Regions from separate parts of the Homo sapiens genome. Here regions 1, 3 and 4 are each linked to region 2. Evidence: fine-mapped expression QTL. A gene starts in region 2. Each other region holds a variant in brackets. All regions are shown on one strand. Distances are from middle to middle. Region 1 overlaps BLTP3B (bridge-like lipid transfer protein family member 3B). Region 2 holds the start of BLTP3B (bridge-like lipid transfer protein family member 3B). Region 3 overlaps BLTP3B (bridge-like lipid transfer protein family member 3B). Region 4 overlaps BLTP3B (bridge-like lipid transfer protein family member 3B).

Region 1 (5,155 bases), 32 kb before region 2:
TAATGAAGAAAAGGGATAAAACTGCAAATTTATTAGTTCTCATGTCTTCATTTGAAAAGTATTTACTCACTACTTTTTAAAAATTGTTTTGAGACAGGGTCTCACTCCGTCACCCAGGCTGGAGTGCAGTGGCACAATCATGACTCACTGCAGCCTCACCCTTCCAGACTCAACCGATCATCCTGCTTCAGCTTCCCAAGTAGCTGGGCCTACAGGCGCATGTGCTACCATGTTGGGCTATTTTTTTATTTTTATTTTTAGTATAGATGCAGTCTCATTATGTTACCCAGGCTAGTCTCAAACTCCTGGGCTCAAGCAATCCGCCTACCTCGGCCTTCCAAAGTGCTGGGATTACAGGTGTGAGCCACCATGCCCAGCAACTCACTACAAGTTTAGATTGTCCCATTTGACAATAAAACTTATGAAAAAACTATCTTTGAACATGTACCAAATGGATGCAATTATTTTATTAACAAATTAATAATTTTGAAATATTAATGGAATCACTTTACACAAAAATTAAGATCTATAAAGTAGTTAATATATGCCTTTACACATAAGGCACACATTTATGCAAAGGTATCTTTCTTTTGAAATTATATTAATAAAAATGTTTTTACACAATTATCTAAAATTAAGTATTTTAAAAGCTAGAGCCAAAATATAGAAGGAAAACATGAAAGGCCTTCCACAAATATCAAGCCACAGATATCAAAGTCTCACCCTAATGGACGCTTTATTACAAAAAACTTTGTTGATAGCAAGCCATGTTGGCAAATCCAACATATTCTGGAGTACTTCTTCATCCAACTCCAAATTCTTCAGTTCACCTTCTCCTTTAAGGGTACTTAGATTTATCTTGTCAGGAGATAAATTTTTGGTAAATCTGAAAGAGAATACACATTGACATTTATTTATGTGTCAGTTACTATACTCCAGAGTCATTTTTTCAAATATACAGAGAACTAAAAATATAATAGGAGTGGACACAACATAATGTCCATCAACGACAAATGGATAAAGAAAATGTGGTACATATACACGATGGAGTATTATTCAGCCATAAAAAAGAATGAGATCCTGTCATTTGCAACAACATGGATGGAACTGGAGGACACTACAGTTAAGTGAAACAAACCAGGCACAGAAAGACAAACTTTACACACTCTCGTTCATTTGTGGGAGCTAAAAATTAAAACAATTGAATACATGGAGATCAAGAGTAGAAATGATGGTCACCAGAGGCTGGAAAGGGTAGTGGTGGGGAGCAGGGGTGGGAATGGGTAGTGGGTACAAAAATACAATTAGGTAGAATGAATACAATACTGATATGGTTTGGTTCTGTGTCCCCACCCAAATCTCACCTCTAATTGTAATCCCCACATGTCAGGGGAAGGAGCTGGTGGGAGGTGACTGGATCATGGGGGTAGTTTCTCATGATAGTTAGGGAGTGAGTTCTCACAAGATCTGATGATTTAAAAGTGTCTGGCAGTTTTCCTCTCTCTCTCTCTCTCTCTCTCTCTCTCTCTCTCTCTCTCTCTCTCTCTCTCTCCTGCCACCATGTAAAACATGCCTTGCTTCACCATCACCTTCCACCATGATTGTGAGTTTCCTGAGGCCTCCCCAGCCATGCAGAAGTGTAAGCCAATTAAACTTCTTTCTTCAGTCTCAGGTATGTCTTCATAGCAGTATAAAAACGGACTAAGACAGATATAGTATTCAACAGCACAACAAAGTGACTACAGTCAACAATAATTTATTGTACGTTTTAAAGTAATTGTGTAACTGGAATGTCTGTAACACAAAGAAATGATAAAGGCAGCCAGGTGCGTGGCTCACACCTATAATCCCAGCATTTTAGGAGTCTGAGGAGGGCGGATCACTTGAGGGCAGGAGTTCAAGACCAGCCTGGCCAACATGGTGAAACCTGGTCTCTACTAAAAATACAAAAATATTAGCTGGGCATGTTGGCGCATGCCTGTAGTCCCAGCTATTCAGGAGGCTGAGGTGGGAGTTTCGCTTCAGTCCAGGAGGTGGAGAATGCAGTGAGCTGAGATTGTGCCACTGCACTCCAGCCTGGGTGACACAGTGAGACCCTGTCTCA[GA/G]AAAAAAAAAAAAAAAAGATTGGAAATAGTTAATGTAAGAGTGAGCATTTTCCAAGGGTTTACTGTGTTCCAAGCTCTTGGCATACATGCGTGACTATTTCATTTAGTTCCCATGATAACCTATTAGGGTCTATACTAATTTTAACCCAATTTTTGAATAAGTAAACCTAAGGAGAAACTTGAACTTACTTGCCTAATATCACAACTAACAATGAAAATACATTACACATCTACTTTGAAATACATTCATATACATTACTTTATCTTCCAAACAACCCTAAAAAATAAAAATTACTAACTATGCCCAACAAATAATTTTTCAAAAGTGAAATTACTGAAAAAAACTAAACTACTGGCTAACAAGAGTTAGTCTTTACTTTTTTTGGAAATTAAATATAAAGCAACATTATATACTGGGTTATTCACATGCCCTACTTGTCAACAAGAATACCAATCAATAAACTCATGTTTCTCCACTGACTCCAAACCAGAATTTGAGCCAGATTCTATCTGAATTCATATCTTCTCACAGGATGTCAACTGAGAAATACAACAATCATTTAACACATGTATTTGACCAATGATGCTGAGCTGTATTACACTTGCTTCTGATCACGCTTGATTCAATACCACGACGCTTTCTCATAGAATGCCATTCCTAACCATAGATAACAAACAAAAAACCCTGCCACTTCCCTGAGGCAGAATATTAGAGCCAGAAGACAACACTCAATAAGTATTTATTGAGAATTCATTATGCAGACACACATACTGGGAAGCAGTACACTTGAGGTCCCTGCCCTTGTGGAGTTTTCAGTTTAGTTGGTGAGACGGATCAAATGGCACAACTAAGAGAGAATATAGCAGGAGTTCTAATCCAGAGCTTCTCTGAAACAGGGACTTTTGAGCTGGTATCTAAAGGAAGAGAAGTTAACTAGGCAAGGAGGAAAAGGGGGTAGGGAAAGAAAGTATTCCAAGCAGAGGAATAAAATGCATAAAGGTTCTAAGACAGGAGGGAGATGATATAAAGTGGAATTGAAAAAATATCAGAAATACTGTTATCTGTAATATTTATAGGGAAGGAAGGATGGACAACAGACTAATCTGAGTAACTCAAACAGAATATTTGACTATATATTCTAACATTTGACTATATATCCTTAGTCTTGGGCATGGAGGAATATGGGGATGGAGGTGAAGCATGGTTAGTGAAGAAATCAGGCAACACCTTGATTGGGTATGTACAAGAATGTTCATTTCAAGGATATCTACAAGAAAAAAAGAGTGAAAACAATCTAAACGTCCCAAGAGGGATACCCCATCTAATTATAATACACTATATTATTAATACATACATATCAAGTAATATATGTTGCCAGTCTTATAAAGAAATGTTTATATTATAATGTTTGATGAAAATTCAAGTCACAAAATTATGTGCTATAATTTCAAGTATGTAAAAAATGCATCATAAAATCCCATGACTACCTATGGCTGGTGGGGTTTTAGATTTTTTTTTTTTTTTTTTTTTTTTTTGCTTTTTTGAGACACGGTCTCGCTCTGTTGTCCAGGGTGGAGTGCAGTGGTGTGATCATGGCTCATTTCAACCACGACCGCCTGGACTCAGGTGATCCCACCTCAGCTTTCCAAGTAGCTGGGACCACCACACCCAGCTAATTAGTTTATTTATTTAATTTACTTTGAGACAGGGTCTCACCCTGTTGCCCAGGCTAGAGTGCAGTGGTTTGATTTTGGCTCACTGCAACCTCCACCTCCAAAGCAGTTGGGACCATGGGCACATGCCACCATGCTCAGCTAGTTTTTTGTTTTTTTTTGTTTGTTTGTTTTGTTTTGTTTTGAGACAGTCTTGCTCTGTCACCCAGGATGGAGTGCAGTGGCACAATCTCAGCTCATTGCAACCTCTGCCTTCTGGGTTCAAGCGATTCTCCTGCCTCAACCTCCTGAGAAGCTGGGATGACAGGCACGCACCACCACGCCCAGCTAATTTTTGTATTTTTAGTAGAGACGGGGTTTCACCATGTTGGTCAGGCTGGTCTCTAACTCCCGACCTTGTGATCCATCCACCTCGGCCTCCCAAAGTGCTGGCTGGGATTACAGGCATGAGCCACCGTGCCCAGCCCCAGCTAGTTATTTTTTAAAGACAGGGACTCACTATGTTGCTCAGGCTGATATCGAATCCCTGGGGTCAAGCAATCCTCCTGCCTCAGCCTCCCAAAGTGCTGGGATTACAGGTGTGAACCACCACACCCAGCCTAGATTTACTTCTCCTTATTTATACTTCTCTGTATAAGTATTCTATAACGAGCATGTACCACTTTTATAAAGACAAAAGTTCAAGGGAAACCAAAAAAGCCTGGCCTGGCAAGAGCAAAAGTGAAAAATGAGGAGGATTAAAATATATGTAATTTAGCCAGGAGCAGTGGCTCATGCTTGAAATCTCAGCAGTTTGAGAGGCCAAGGCAAGAAGATCACTTGAGCCCAAGAGTTTGAGACCAGCCTGGGCTGGTCTATATATTAGTGAGTGACTATATTAGTGAGACCCTATGTCTACAAAAAATTTAAAAAAGAATTAGCCAGGCATAGTGGAACACTCCTGTAGTCCCAGTTACTGAGGGGACTGAGCTGGGAGGATTGCTTGAGCCTGGGAGGTCAAGGCTGCAGTGATCCATAATTTTGCCACTGCACTCCAGCCTGGGTGACAGAGCCTTTGTCTCAAAGACAAAACAAAAAACAAAAATAATAGCTAACAACAGCAATAAAATTTCCAAGCAAATGAAAAAAGTAGACTTGATTTAGATTATACATTTTACAATCAATACACCATTATTAGGGTCTAAATTATGTGCACTGCACTAAGTAAACATTTAAGGGCAAAACAAAACAAAACAAAAAGGTCCATATAATCAAAGATTTATAATTTGGTTAAGGGAACAGAGAATAAATGCACAAAAAGCCAAGAATCTCAGGAGGCTGAGGCAGGAGAATTGCCTGAACCCGGGAGGCGGAGGTGGCAGTGAGCCGAGATTGCA
Region 2 (5,155 bases):
TATGGGGGCTCACAATTTTAAACTCTGTGGTCAGGAAAGGTCACCTTTGAGAAGGTGCAATGGGTTGCATACACAGGCCTCACATGATGTCTAGTATTAGAAACTAGTATGTTCAACTATTTCCTGGTAAACTATATTCTACTGTATCCCAGACCACTAGGTCAATGTAGTGACATCTTCATTACTGGATATTCTATAAAATTAAACTTGAACCAGGTAATTTCAAAAGTTCATTCCTTCCTGAGTAACTATAATTTATCACAACACCTGCCTTCTTTTGTCAATTACGAGCTGCCTTTAGATTTCTGAATAACTATTTTTCTTAGGAGATGACAGCAATTAGCAGTAAGATTAACTTATTAACCAAAAATAAAAATTTGATACTCTTTAGTCACCTGAGTTAAGGATGTTTTGAAATATGAAATAACTGAAAACTCAAGTGTCCCAAAAACTCATCTCTGAAAAAAAAAAAAATCCTCATCACACTATTTATCACACAGCTATTACAAATCATACAGATTTAGAAACTAACCCTAAGGGCCAGGCACGGTGGCTCACACCTGTAATCCCAGCACTTTGGGAGGCCAAGGCAGGCGGATCACCTGAGGTTGGGAGTTTGAGACCAGCCTAACCACCATGGAAAAACCCTGTCTCTACTAAAAATACAAAATTAGCCAGGCGTGGTGGCGCATGCCTGTAATCCCAGCTACTCGGGAGGCTGAGGCAGGAGAACTGATTGAAGCCAGGAGGCAGAGGCTGCCGTGAGCCGAGATCATGCCATTGCACTCCAGTCTGGGAAACAGAGTGAGACTCTGTCTCAAAAAAAAAAAAAAAAAAAAAAAAAATATATATATATATATATATATATAAAATAAAATAAAAACTAGCCCTAAAGACTCAATTTTCAATATATGGGTGTTTTCTATCTCATGCAGTAAGCCATTACATCTTTGTTCTTAATTTTTTTTATTATACTTTGGTATGCATGCTCTTAATTTTTAAGAGCCCCTCTCAAATGGAGTTCTATAAAAGAATTAAACTCTAATGCACTATCTGTTGATTGAATTAACTTTTCTTCCAAGCATCTAGAGTGGTACTAGCTATGCAGCATCATCCTTGGACGAGTGAGAAAGTAGGCATTCAAATCATTTTCTGCAGATCTGTATTTTCTTGTGGAGCTGGGTATGAGAAAGGCGGGAGGACATAAATTAAAAATAGATAAAACCTTCCAAAATAAGATAGTTCAAGATTGGGCCATATATATAATTTTAAAAGAAACTTTTCAATGAGTGATAACATTAAGAAATACATATTCATGCAGGGCGTGGGGGCTCACACCTGTAATCCCAGCACTCTGGGAGGCCGAGGACCGCGGATCACCTGAGGTTGGGAGTTCAAGACCAGCCTGGCCTGGTGAAACCCAGTCTCTACTAAAAAAATACTACATATATACACATATATATGTGTAGTGTATACACATATATATGTAGTACACATATATATGTATGTGTATATATGTGTATATATGTATATGTATATATGTACATATGTATATATATGTACACACACACACACACGCTGCTATACTTTGCTACTTTTAAGAAAAGTGCTATATCTTATTCAGTATTATAAGTGAGGAAAATATTTGCTGAATCACAGAAGTAGAATTCTGTTCCCAATATATAACCTGTGGTATAAGACAATCTGGGGAATCAAGAATTATGTTTACTATACAAGTCTATAATCATACCCGTGTCTTCCCAAAATTAGTTAAAATTAACTTACAAATCGAACAGAAAGGGATCCTAACCAAGGGCTTTGAGTTCGCTGGTAACAACTTGGAACAAGAGCCTACATTTAGCCTGTGTCTTGAGACAAACACGGAGAAGCCAAGAGCAGTAACAAACTGCCAGCCTTACTGAGTCATGTTTCTGACTAAAACCGCGTTATGAAATGGAGAGAATGACATGTCTTGGGTTTAATCACCACAGATGTTAACTCCCTGAATTTTAGAGTTGCAGAGGAAAAAGAGCAAAAACCAAAAAAAAAAAATGTTCAGTAATAATGATGTGGGTCTCATAGGACTCCAGAAAGAACCTGCCAAAGCTGCGAACTCTGCTTATTTACCTAAAACAAATCCTAACTGTGCAAACAGGCACACCCTCTGATGCCACAGAGCGGGAACGCCAAGGTGGGAGGAATTCAGAACAATCACAAGGTTAACGTTCCACTGAGAACACAGCCTCCACTGAGCGTCCACACTGCGCCAGAAGCCCTCGGTTAACGGAACCGCTCTGCTCCAAGGGGAAGGAGCACCGAACTCGAGTTAGAGCCCAGCACATTAACCAGGCACTTGGGTGACGCCAGGCCACCTCCAGCCTCCGCTCAGTACCGCACAGAGCCGAGCCGGGACGCCCCCAGACGCCGCGCCGGGAGCGATCCCAGCCCGCCGCGCTCCGCACTCCGGGCTCCTCCGCGCGCCCACCCTGGGAGAAGACGCGTCAGGGGCCGATTCGTGAGGCCAGCCCCCGGCGCCGCCGGCGACAAGAGATCCGGGGCCGCGACCTCTGCCCCGGCCAGAGCGGGGAAGTCCGAAGGTCGCCTCCCGCACAGCCGCCAGGCGCCGCCGCCCCCGAAGCCGCAGGCTGACTCCAGTGCGGGCTGGGGTGGAGGCCGACTGGCGCCGACACCGAGGCGCTCACTGACCTGGAGAGGTGCTTCAAGATTTGTTTCTTGATGATCCCGGCCATGGTACCGAGGCTGGAGACGCCGCGGTCTCGTCCTGTTGCTCACTGCCTCCTCTCTTCGTGGCCGTCTCCTCTCTGTCCCGGCTAGCCCGGCCGGCGGAGAGGCGCTGATCGCTCACGACCGGGAGAGACCCAAGGCCCCGGCCAAGGCCACAGCCGCCGCCGAGAACCCGGAGCATCACGCTCAGGCCGCCACGGCCGCCGCGGGCGCCATCTTGGCTGCAGCATCACCTAAGAGACTCGGTGGAGGGCGGGGGCGGGGCGGCTCCAGGCGGGGCCGGCACGAGGCGGGGCGGGGCCAACGCCGGCTCTGGGCGGGCTCTGGGCGGGCTCTGGCTGGGCTCTGGCTGGGCTCTGGGCGGGGGCGGGAGGTTTGTGGCATTGGCGCCAGGGTTCTTAGCCCTCGCGACACAGGGCCCTTGACTCTCAATACACCATCCTTCTTGGCCTTAATCCTCCCTCCTTCCCTCTGCTGGTGTTCCCGCCTCCATCGCTGACCCGTCGCTGATTTTTACTTCCACGTCCTACTTCCCTTATTCATTTCCTCAGAATGTTTTTTATTTTTTTGCTTGTTTGTTTTTTTTTTTGAGACAAGTCTTGCTCTGTCACACAGGCTGGAGTCCAGTGGTACGATCTCGGCTCATTGCAACCTCCACCTCCAGGGTTCAAGCGATTCTCCTGCTTCAGCCTCCTGAGTAGCTGGGATTACAGGTGCGCACCACCACGGCCGGCTAATTTTTGTATTATTAGAGACGAGGTTTCACCATATTGGCCAGTAGGTCTCGAACTTCTCACCTCGTGATCCACCCTCCTAGCCTCCCAAAGTGCTGACATTACAGGCGTGAGCCACTGCACCCGGCCTCCTTAGAATGTTTTAAGAATCGGCCATTAACTCCTGTGCTTGCTTTGCTCTCTTGACCTACTCACCTTTCTTCATATTCTTCCTTAGGTTTTTGTTTTTGGTGTTTTTTTTTTTTCTTTTGTTAAGGTGTCCTGCCTTTCCCTTACCTAAATGTGGCAATTTAATGTTTCCTTTGGTTATTGCTATTCTAAGGGAAGTAAAGGTTGACAATGGTTCCTAGTAGTCTAGGACCTAGGAATTAGAAGGTGTATAATTCAAGTCCTGGCTCTGGTATTTTCTAGCTGTGTTATCCTGGGGAAAATAATTTCTTTACTATTAGTTTCATTTTAATCATCTGTGAAATAGATTAATCATCAGCCTTACCCACTTCACTAGGTTGAACCTAAAGGTGTAAATATCATATGAAAAGTTCTGTAAGGAAGGAAGGAAATTGTTGAACTAGGGAAAACTGTTACAATTCTACACCTCCACCCCACCCAATCCCAAACAGAGCTAACATTTTCAGAGATTAAAATGACGACTTCTGTCATCCCAGCACTTTGGGAGGCCGAGGCAGGCAGATCACTTGAGGTCAGGAGTTCAAGACCAGCCTGACCAACATGGTGAAACTCTGTGTCTACAAAAAAAAAATACAAAAATTAGCTGGGCATAGTGGCGGGCGCCTGTAATCCCAGCTACTCAGGAGGCTGAGGCAGGAGAATTGCTTGAACCCGGGAGGCAAATGTTGCAGTGAGCTGAGATCAAGCCACTGCACTCCAGCCTGGGCGACAGAGCAAGACTGTCTCAAAAAAAAAAAAAATTACTCAGTGTTAAGTCAAGTTTAGCCTAACACTGCCTCCTTACGTAATTGAGTTCAGCCTAAAGGTTTTTCTGTACATCATGAACTTATGAAAATAAGCAGAGGTATAAACCGACCATAGCCCACACCTGTGCCAATCACTGAGTTTTGGCCAGATGTAGCCAACTGTTCAGACTGTGTTCAAATAAGGCAAACACTGAGCTGTAAGCAATCCAGTTGTTTCTGTACCTCACTTCCATTTTCTAGACCTCACTTTCCTTTTGCTGGCCAGAAATCTGCTCCCAGCATGTGGCTGTGCTGGAGTCTCTCTGAATCTGCTGTGATTATGGGGGCTGCCAGACTCAGGAATCGTTCATTGTTAAACTCCTTTAAATTTAATTTGGCTGAAGTTTTTCTTTTAACACTAGTGATATCTAAAACAGGAAAAGAAATTGTACCACCCCTGAGGGATGTATTAGCAAGATGTGTGGTTGTACATCTTGGGAGTTGGGTGGGAAGTAGTTTACACATAGTCCAATAAGCTGGCCCTTTTTGAAGAATGGAAAGGATAGACGTGTAAGTTGACTACACTCAACATTTCATTTTATTTTTATTTTATTTTTGAGACAGTCTTACTCCATCGCTCAGGCTGGAATGCAGCAGCACGATCTTGGCTCGCTGCGACCTCCGCCTCCCAGGTTCAATCAGTTCTCCTGCCTCAGCCTCCCAAGTAGCTGGGATTACCAGGCTAATTTTTGTATTTTTAGT
Region 3 (5,155 bases), 69 kb before region 2:
AGGGTGGGTGCGGTGGCTCATGCCTGTAATCTCAGCACTTTGGGAAGCCAAGGAGGTCAGATCATTTGAGGCCTAGAGCTCAAGACCAGCTTGGCCAACAAGGAGAAAAGAAACCTCACCTCTACTAAAAAAAAAATTAACAAAAATCAGCCAGATGTGGTGGTGCATGCCTGTAGTCCCAGCTACTCAGGAGAATCACTTGAACCTGGTAGGCAGAGGTTGCAGTGAGCTGAGATCGCACCACTGCATGCCAGTCTGGGCAACAGAGCAAGAATCTGTCTCAGAAAAAAAAACAACATATATTAATAAATCAATATTAAATAAATGGGCAAGTAGGTCTAAGTATTTTGGAGTTCTACTTTTAAAGAAAGGACATAAAACTTGTTATGCCTCTGATAACAAAACCTATTTCATCTAAATATTTTCAACTATGATTTTCAGCTAGCATGATGAAAAAGGTATCACAGAAAAGAGGGCAACATTTAGTTTAAGAATTCCGAGATGGGCCAGGTGCAGTGGCTCACACCTGTAATCCCAGCACTTCGGGAGGCTGAGGTAGGCAGACCACTTGAGGCCAGGAGTTAGAGACCAGCCTGGCCAACATGACAAAACCCTATCTCTATCAAAAACACAAAAATTAGCCGGGAGTGTTGGCACACACATGTAGTCCCAGCTACTCGGAAGCCTGGGGCACAAGAATTGTTTGGGCCCGGGAGGCAGAGGTTCCAGTGAGCCAAGATCACGCCACCGCACTCCAGCCTGGGTGACAGAGCAAGACTATGTCTCCAAAAAAAAAAAAAAAAAAAAAGGAATTTCTAGATGAACTGAGACAATAGCAGAGAGTTTTAATATTCAAAGAATACAAATGTACAATCATTTTAATGTTAGGAAGCTAAAGAGTTTTAATATTCAAAGAATACAAATGTACAATCATTTTAACGTTAGAAAGCCAAAGAAGCTTCTAAAAATAAAAATTCATGTAATTCAATATTTCTGAAAATTGTAAATGCTAAAAGTTGCCCAAAGTATACATTTAGGCATTTTAAAACAGTCAAAAAAATTCTCTACAGCTAAAAGGACAACTTCAGTTACTTTTTCAATAATATATAAATGAAGTTATATAGCTGACATATAAATGGAGTTTTACTAAGGGGAAACAAATGACTTTATTCTACAAATAACCTAGCTTTCATTGATTCTTTAACAAACAGCTATTAAGCACAAAGTAAGTTGAATATCTGGAATAAAATGAACATAAATACCAGATGTGCTGGACATGGCGGCTCATGCCTATAATCCCAGCACTATGGGAGTCCAAGGTGGGCAGATCACTTGAGGTCAGGAGTTCAAGATCAGCCTGGCCAACATGGTGAAACCCTGTCTCTAGTAAAACACAGAAAAATTAGCTGGGCCTGGTGGTGCATGCCTGTAATCCCAGCTACTCAGGAGGCTGAGGCACAAGAATCGCTTGAACCTGGGAGGCCAAGGCTGCAGTGAGCCGAGATCGTGCCACTGCACTCCAGCCTGGGCAACAGAGCGAGACTCTGCCTTGAAAAAAAAACAAAAAACAAAAAACGAAAAAACCTCATGATTCCTGCCATCAAGGATTCTACAAGCTAGGGAGGGAAAAGGATACATAAACAAATAATAACAACATCTAAAACTGTTAGACTAGACTTATGCACTATACACAATAAGAATAAAGAACAATAGGGGCTGGGCACAGTGGTTCATGCCTGCAATCCCAACACTTTGGGAGGCCAAGGCAGGAGTATGGCTTGAGCCTAGGAGTTTGAGATCAGCCTGGGCAACACAGTGAGATGCTAGCTCTCAAAAAACTAATAATAAATAAGGAACAATACAGTTTTATTTATTTTTCATATTTATAAAACTCAAAAATATTAACAAGAAAAAAATACTTTCTCAAATAATGGACAAATAATAATTAAAAACTCTCTTACTTGGAAAATCCTTTCCATCTGGATAGTAATATTCTGTGAATTCTATATAGACAGCTGACATTTCTTGTGGAAGATATAGGGATTTTTTATTGCAGCAAATCATGCTTTTGGGGGAAGAACGACATTGTTCCGCTGTAGAGACCTGAAAAGATAAATAAGTTTACTGAAATCACACTGAATAAAAACCTTTCCAAATAATTTATGCAACCCAGACAGTACTTTTAAAACTACTTACAAAACTTTGCTAATGGTTAATTTCCAGTGTAAACTTTATTATATATTTAACTTCACATGGAATTATTTTTAAACACCCATCAACTATTCAGAAAACTCTATAATCTTTTTGGATCCTTATCAATCACAAAATCAACACTGTACAATATTCCTTACAAACTTATTATTGTGAGCCTTAAAAACAACAGAAAAATGATAACGATATTCTATCAGATAATATAGATAAGTAAATGGCAGTCAGGACATAGATCCAAGTCCTCAAATCCAGAATGCTTCCCCGTACGCTGTTTAAAATAATCTTTACCATAATCTCTCCATTACCATGAAAAGTAACAGAGCTATATACAGTTTCTGCTTGAGATAATAAAAATTCTGGAGACAAATAATGGTACTGGTTACACAACAACGTGAATGTGCTTAACGACAATTATTATATAATATATAGATACAGACACAG[A/AT]TTTTTTTTTTTTTTTTGGTAGAGACGGGGTTTCGCCATGTTGGCCAGGCTGGTCTCAAACTCCTGACCTCAAGCAATCCACCCACCTCAGCCTCCCAAAGTGCTGGGATTACAGGCGTGAGCCACTGCACCTAGCCGATATTATTAGGTTGGTGCAAAAGTAATTGCAGTTTTGCCATTACTTTCAATGGCAAAAACCTAAATATGTATATGTGTGTGTATATATATATAATTATTATTGTAAATTCAGTCATACCTTACCACAATAAAAAATTAATTTAAAAATAATAGCTATAAACACTTCCGTCAAATAGTTTGATCGCTCGAATTCATTTTCCAAAAAGACTATGTTTCATACACAAATCAATAAATATGATTCACCACAAACAGAACTAAAAACAAAAACCATATGATTATCTCAATAGGCAAAGAAAATGCTTTTGATAAAATCCAACGTCCCTTCACAATAAAAACCCTCAACAAACTATGAATCAAAGAAACATACCTCAAAACAGTAAGAGTAATCTATGACAAACTCACAGCTAATATCGTTCTGAAGCGGCAAAAGCTGAAATCATTTCCCTTAAGGAATGGAACAAGACAAGGATGCCCCCTCTCACAACTCCTACTCAAAATAGTACTGGAAGTTCTAGCTAGAGCAATCAGGCAAGAGAAAGAAAGAAAGGGCATCCAAATAGGAAAAGAAGTCAAATTATTTCTCTTCGCTGACAATATGATTCTATACCTAGAAAATGCTAAACTCCACGAAAAGACTCCCATGACTGATAAGCAACTTCAATAAAGTTTCAGGATACAAAATCAATGTAAACAATCAGCAGTATTTTTATATACCAGTAACATTCAAGCTGAAAGCCAAACAACAACAACAACAACAGCAACAACAAATCCTAGGAATACATCTAACCAAAAGATAAAAGATCTCTACAAGAACTGGGCCAGGCATGATGGCTCACACCTGTAATCCCAGCACGGTGAGAGGCTGAGGCGGGCAGATCATTTGAGGCCAGGAGCTCGAGACCAGCGTGGCCAACATGGCGAAACCCCATCTCTACCAAAAATACAAAAATCAGCTGGGCGTGGTGGCACACGCCTGTAATCCCAGTTACTTGGGAGGCTGAGGCATAAAAATCGCTTGAACTCGGGAGACGGAGGTTGTAGTGAGCTAACACCACTGTATTCCAGCCTGGGCAACAGAACAAGACTCTGTTTCAAAAAAAAAAAAAAAAAGTCCACACTGCTGAAAACAATATACAGACTCAATGTCATTCCTATCAAACTACAAACATCATTTTGCACAAAATTAGAAAAAAATTTTAAAATATTTAAAAATTCATATGAAACCCAAAAGCCTGAATAGCCAAAGCAACTCTAAGAAAAAAGAACAAAGCTGGAGACATTACATAACTATACTATAAGGAACCAAAATGGCATGGTACTGATACAAAAACAGAGACATAGATCAATGGAACAGAATAGAGAACCCAGAAATAAAATCGCACACCTATAACTATCTGATCTTTGACAAATTCAACAATCACAAGCAATGGGGAAAGGACACCCTATTCAATGAATGGTGCCTGGATGACTGGCTAGTCATATTTAGAAGAATGAAACTGGACCCCTACACCTTCCTTTTTTTTTTTTTTGAGACGGAGTCTAGCTCTGTCACCCAGGCTGGAGTGCAATGGCATGATCTCAGCTCACTGCAACCTCTGCCTCCCGGGTTCAAGCAATTCTCCTGCCTCAGCCTCCTGAGTAGCTGGGATTACAGGCGCGCACCACCACGCCCAGCTAAGTTTTGTATTTTTAGTAGAGATGGGGTTTCACTATGTTGGCCAGGCTGGTCTCGAACTCCTGACCTCGTGATCCGCCCACCTCGGCCTCTCAAAATGCTGGGATTACAAGTGTGAGCCACCACGCCCGGCTACACCTTCTACTATATACAAAAATTAACTCAAGATGGAACAAATATTTAAATATAAGAAGTCAAACTATAAAAGTCCTAGAAGAAAAGCTAGGAAATACCATTCTGGACATAGGCTTTAGCAAAGAATTTATGGCTAAGACCTCAACGGCAATCACAACAAAAACAAAAATAGACAAGTGAGACCTCATTGGAGAGCTTCTATACAGCAAAATAAACTATCAACAGAGTCAACAGACATCCTACACAATGGGAGAAAATACTCACAAATTATTCATCTGACAAAGGTCTAATATCCAGAATCTATAAGGAACTTGAACAAAAGTCAACAAGCAAAAACCAAACACCATTAAAAAGTGGGCAAAGGACATGAACACACACTTCTCAAAAGAAGACATATGTGCAGCCAACAAGCATATGAAACAATGCTCAATACACTAATCATCATTAATCATCAGAGAAATGTAAATCGAAACCACAGTGAGATACCATCTCAGATACATTAGTTAGAATGGCTATTATTAAAAAGTCAAAATACAGATGCTGGTGAGGCTGCAG
Region 4 (5,155 bases), 24 kb before region 2:
AATAAGTAAGTATAGGCCGGGCGTCGTGGCTCACACTTGGAATCCCAGCAATTCGGGAGGCCAAAGCCAGGTGGATCACTTTAGCTCAGGAGTTTCAGGCAAGCCTGGGCAACATAGTGAGACCTTGTCTCTACAAAAAATTTTTAAATTAGCTAGGCACGGTGGCACACGCCTGTAGCTACCTGGGAGACTGAGGTAGGAAGATCCCTCAAGCCCGGGAGATTGAGGCTGCAGAGCTGTGATCGTGCCACTGTACTCCAGCCTTGGTGACAGAGTGAGATCCTGTCTGGGAAAAAAAAACAAAAAAACAAAAAAAACACACAAGTATAATACATCTTGACCAAGTGTTTATTCTAGAAATGAGGGCTGGTTTAAAACCAAAAACCAACTAATGCAATTCACCACATTAAAAGTAAAATCTAGGCCAGGCGAGGTGGCTCACGCCTGTAATCCCAGCACTTTAAGGCAGGCGGATCACCTAAGGTCAGGAGTTCAAGACCAGCCTGGCCAACATGATGAAATCCCATCTCTACTAAAAATACAAAAAAAGTTAGCTGGGTGTGGTGGTGCACACCTGCAATCCCAGTTACTCAGGAGGCTGAGGCAGGGGAATCACTCGAACCCAGGAGGCAGAGGTTGCAGTGAGCCGAGATGGTGCCAATGTACTCCAGCCCGGGTGACAGAATGAGACTGTCTCAAAAAAAAAAAAAAAAGTAAAATCTAGCCAGACACAGTGGCTCACGGCTGTAATCCTGACACTTTGGGAAGCTGACGTGGGAGGATGGCTTGAGCCCAGAAGTAGTGAGACCTCATCTGTACAAAAAATTAAAAGTTAGCTAAGCATAGTGGCAGGGGCCCGTAGTCCAAGTTACTCAGAAGGCTGAGGTGAGAGGACTATTTGAGCCCAGGAGGTGGAGTTGGTGCCTAGATCATACCACCACACTCCAGCCTGGGCAACAGAGCAAGATCCTGTCTCAAAAAAAAAAAAAAAAAAGAAAAGAAAAAAAAAGGTAAAATTACATCATGTTCTCAATAGAGCCCAAAAAAGCATTTTACAAAAGTCAACACCCATTCATGAAAAAATAACTCTCAACAAGACAGGAACAGAAGAGAACTTCCCCAAAACTCTAAAGGACATCTACAAAAACTCTACAGCTAAAATTACGTGTAATGAGAAAAGACTAAAATTGCTTTTCCCCTAAGACAGGGACAAGGCAAGGGTGTTTGCTCTCATCACTTTTTTCCAACAATGTATTGAAGGTTCTAGCCAACACAATAAGGTAAGAAAAATATATAAAAGGCATCTGGTTTTGAAAAGTAGTAAAATTATTTTTTCCCAGATGACATGATCACCTGTGTAGAAAATCATACAGAATTATTAAAGACATTGCCAGAACTAAAAAATGAGTGTAGCAATGTTGCAGGATATAAGGCCAATATAAAAATAAATCAGTTGAAGGGACAGAGGAGCCGTAAGAAAGAATTACCAATAGCCAAAGCTGAAAGAATCTGAGCAACAAAATAAATAAAACAGTACTGGATAATAACACAAACTATAAAACAAAAATACAGAAGTCTACACTAATATAAACATATGATTAAATAAATAAATAACTTGGAGAAAATAGAGAAATCTTCCTGGCAGAAAAGTTCCAAAAAAATTACATAGATATTCTAGTCTCAGGGAGGTGGAGCATAACTCCTCATTCTTTTAGTGAGGGCTGCACATAGTACTTCCTTCCAAAATGTTCAGTAAGAAAATGGGGAAAAGAATAACTTTACAGTGGAGAACTTGGCAAATGCTACATCAGCCAGGTTATCAACGTCAACATCGGCAATAAGACATGTTGATAATATGTACCCCTGATTTGACATAATAAAAAGAGCTCTTAACTAACCTCTGTGGTCTCCTTGCCAAAAACCCCTAATGCCAATCTAATCCTAAGAAAAAGGGTAGACATACACTAGTGACTTCAGAATTACCTGCAGAACTTTTTATTTATTTATTTTGAGGCAGTCTCGTTCTGT[C/T]GCCCAGGCTGGAGGGCAGTGGTGTGATCACAGCTCACTGCAGCCTTGAACTCCTGGGCTCAAGTGATCCTCCCCTGCCTCGACCTCCTAAGATCCTCCCCTGCCTCCACCTCCCCTGCCTCCACCTTGACCTCCTCAACATGCCCAGCACCACCACGTCCAGCTCATTTTTAATTTTTTTGTAGAGATGGGGTCTCGCTGTGTTGCCCAGGCTGGTCTCAAACTCCTGGGCTCAAGCAATCCTCCTGCTGTGGCCTCCCAAAGTGCTGGGATTACAGGCATGAGCCACCGCACCTGACCTTTGGGGTGCTTTTTAAAACTACTCCATTTCAAGCCCATTCCCAGAGATTCTGGTGCTCTTGATATGGAGCAGGGCCTAGAAATCTCCATTTTAGGAAGTTATCTGGGGGACTCATTTATATGCATCAGATTTAAAATCACAGATTTATCGTGGAGGAGATACAAAGAATGCCTTTTTTATACTACTCTTATCAATCCTGGACTTATGTGTATCGATTTTATAGAGCAACCAAAGATATCTTGACACAGTTGAAATTGGCATTTCTCTTGGTCCCAGAAAAAAAAATGAGTAATTTTATATAAATTTTTGTATTTTTTTTAAAGGAAAACAGCAGACAAACCCCAATTGAAGGACACTGTACAAAACACGTGGCCAGGTCTCCTCAAAACTTTCAAGGTTGGCTGGGCACGGTGGCTTATGCCTCTCCAAAAAAATAAAATATTAGCCAGGTGTAGTGGTGCATGCCTGTAGTTCTAGCTACTCAGGAGGCTGAGGCAGGAGGACTGCTTAAGCCCAGGAGGTTGAGGCTGCAGTGAGTCATAATCACACTACTGCACTCCAGTCTGGGAGAGTGAGTGAGACCGTCTCAAAACAAAACAAAACAAAACAAAACAAAAAACTCTCAAGGTCTTCAAAAACAAGGAACGTCTGAGAAATGGGCACAACCAAGAGGAGCCTAAAAAGACATGATGACTAAATGTAATATATTTGGAATGGGACCATGGAATAGAAAAAGGACATTGGGTAAAAGAAATACTAAGGAAATTTGAACAGAGTATGGCCTATAATAATTATCAACATTAGTTAATTGTGATGAACCATATGAATGTAAAATGCTAATAGTAAGAGAGACTAAATGTTGGGTATGAGAATTCTGCATTATCTTCACAACCTTTCTATAAATCCATAACTATTCTAAGATTAAAAGCTTATTTTTAAAAAATCAGAGCTGATTATGGAAAGTTTATTCATTTTATTGTATGTAAATTTCACTCAATAAAAATTATAATAAAGAAATCAGCTGGGTGTTGCGGTTCATGCCTGTAACTCCAGCACTGTGGGAGGCCAAGGCGAGCAGATCACAACGTCAGGAGTTCAAAGACCAGCCTGGCCAACATGGTAAAACTCTGTCTTTACTAAAAATACAAAAATTAGCTGGGCTTAGTGGCATGCACCTGTAGTCCCAGCTACTCGGGAGGCTGAGGCAGGAGAATTGCTTGAACTCAGGAGGCGGAGGTTGCAGTGAGCCGAGATCGCGCCACTGCACTCCAGCCTGGGCGACAGAGCCAGACTCTGTCTCAAAAATGAAATAAAATAAAAAAATAAATAAATAAATTATGTTTCTATATGTAGCAACAATCAGAAACTGAATATTTTAAACTACCATTAACATTAGCATAAGAAATATGAAATTTTTAGGGATAAATTTGTCAAAAGGTGTGCAAGACCTAGAAACTGAAAACTACAAAATACTGTTGCAAGAAATTGAAGAAGATCTAAATAAATGAAGAAATAAAACATATTAGTGGATTAAACTCAATACTGTTAAAATGTCATCAATTCTCTCAAAAAGACTTACAGATTCAAGGCAACCCTAAGCAAAACCCAAGCAGGCTTCTTTTTTGAGAGAAATGACATACTGATTCTAAAATTTTCATGAAAATGTAGAAGACCTAGAATATCCAAAATAACTCTGAAAAAGATGAACAAAGTTGGAAACATTATACTGCCAATTTCAAGACTTATCTAAAAGCTACAGTAATCGAGGCAGTCTGATAATGGTGGGTGTAAATAAATAATAAATGCAACAAAATACAGAGTCCAGAAAAAGACCCAAATTCATGGTTAGCTAATTTCCAACAAAGGTGCAAAAACAAGTCAATGAAAATAATATTTTTAAGAAGTGGTACCAGAATGATGTTACAGCCATATGCAAAAAAAACAAAAAACAAAAAAATCCTTGACCTTTACCTCACCCCATAAACAAAAATTAACTCTAAATTATCACAGACCTAAATCTAAGAACTACAACTTAAAAACTCCTGAAGAAAATATTAGTAACCTTGAGTTTGGTAGATTTAACGCAACAAAAAATGCACAAATCATAGGAGAAAAAAATAAGTTAGTGGATCAAAATTAAAACCTCTGCCCTTTGAAAGACACTGTAACTACAGGGCAACCATAGACTGGGAAAAAATATTTCCAAAGCATATATTTGAAAAAAGACTTGTACCTACAATTTTTTTTAAATTCTTACAACTTGAAAGTAAGACAATTCACTAACAGGCAAAAGGCCTGGGCGTGGTGCCTCACGCCTGTAATCCCAGCACTTCGGGAGGCCTAGGCGGGCGGATCACCTGAGATAAGGAGTTTGAGACCAGCATGGCCAAAATGGCAAAACCTCATTTCTACTAAAAATACAAAAATTAGCTGAGCGTGAGACAGGCGCCTGTAATCCCAGCTACTCGGGAGGCTGAGGCAGAATTGCTTGAACCTAGGAGGTGGAGGTTTCAGTGAGCCAAGATCGCACCACTGCACTCCAACCTGGGTGACAGAGCAAGATTCCATCTCAAAAAAGAAAAAAATAAAAATAAAAAATAAAATAGGCAAAAGATTTAAAGGGACCTTGGAACCAAAGAAGACACAGATGGCAGATAGGCACTTGAAAAGATGCCCAACATTAGTCATTAGAAAACTGCAAATTAAAAACCACAGTAAGATACCACTACTTATCCACTAAAATAGCTAAAATTAAAAAGGCTAACTATACTGAGTATTGGTGAAGATATGGAGCAACTGGAACTCTCATATACGTATTTGTGAGAA

What was found.
Region 1: its variant is fine-mapped to the expression of BLTP3B in whole blood (INTERVAL, PIP above 0.99).
Region 3: its variant is fine-mapped to the expression of BLTP3B in whole blood (INTERVAL, PIP above 0.99).
Region 4: its variant is fine-mapped to the expression of BLTP3B in whole blood (TOPMed, PIP above 0.99).

Annotation. Positions count from the first base shown.
Region 1 is chr12:100,107,663-100,112,817 of GRCh38, forward strand. BLTP3B (bridge-like lipid transfer protein family member 3B) reads right to left here. Exons shown (of 21, transcript NM_015054.2): 2 at 724-886. Among named protein-coding and RNA genes, the nearest start is that of BLTP3B, 33 kb to the right of the region's middle. The variant GA/G (reference allele first, on the strand shown) is at 2,105.
Region 2 is chr12:100,139,886-100,145,040 of GRCh38, forward strand. BLTP3B (bridge-like lipid transfer protein family member 3B) reads right to left here and starts at 2,989. Exons shown (of 21, transcript NM_015054.2): 1 at 2,707-2,989. The coding sequence starts at 2,750. BLTP3B-DT (BLTP3B divergent transcript) reads left to right here and starts at 3,170. Exons shown (of 2, transcript NR_186018.1): 1 at 3,170-3,458; 2 at 4,655-4,786. RefSeq lists silencers at 2,404-2,653, 2,974-3,153 and an enhancer at 2,534-3,297.
Region 3 is chr12:100,070,711-100,075,865 of GRCh38, forward strand. BLTP3B (bridge-like lipid transfer protein family member 3B) reads right to left here. Exons shown (of 21, transcript NM_015054.2): 12 at 1,962-2,103. Among named protein-coding and RNA genes, the nearest start is that of BLTP3B, 70 kb to the right of the region's middle. The variant A/AT (reference allele first, on the strand shown) is at 2,653.
Region 4 is chr12:100,115,473-100,120,627 of GRCh38, forward strand. All of the region lies in intron 1 of BLTP3B (bridge-like lipid transfer protein family member 3B), which reads right to left. Among named protein-coding and RNA genes, the nearest start is that of BLTP3B, 25 kb to the right of the region's middle. The variant C/T (reference allele first, on the strand shown) is at 2,029.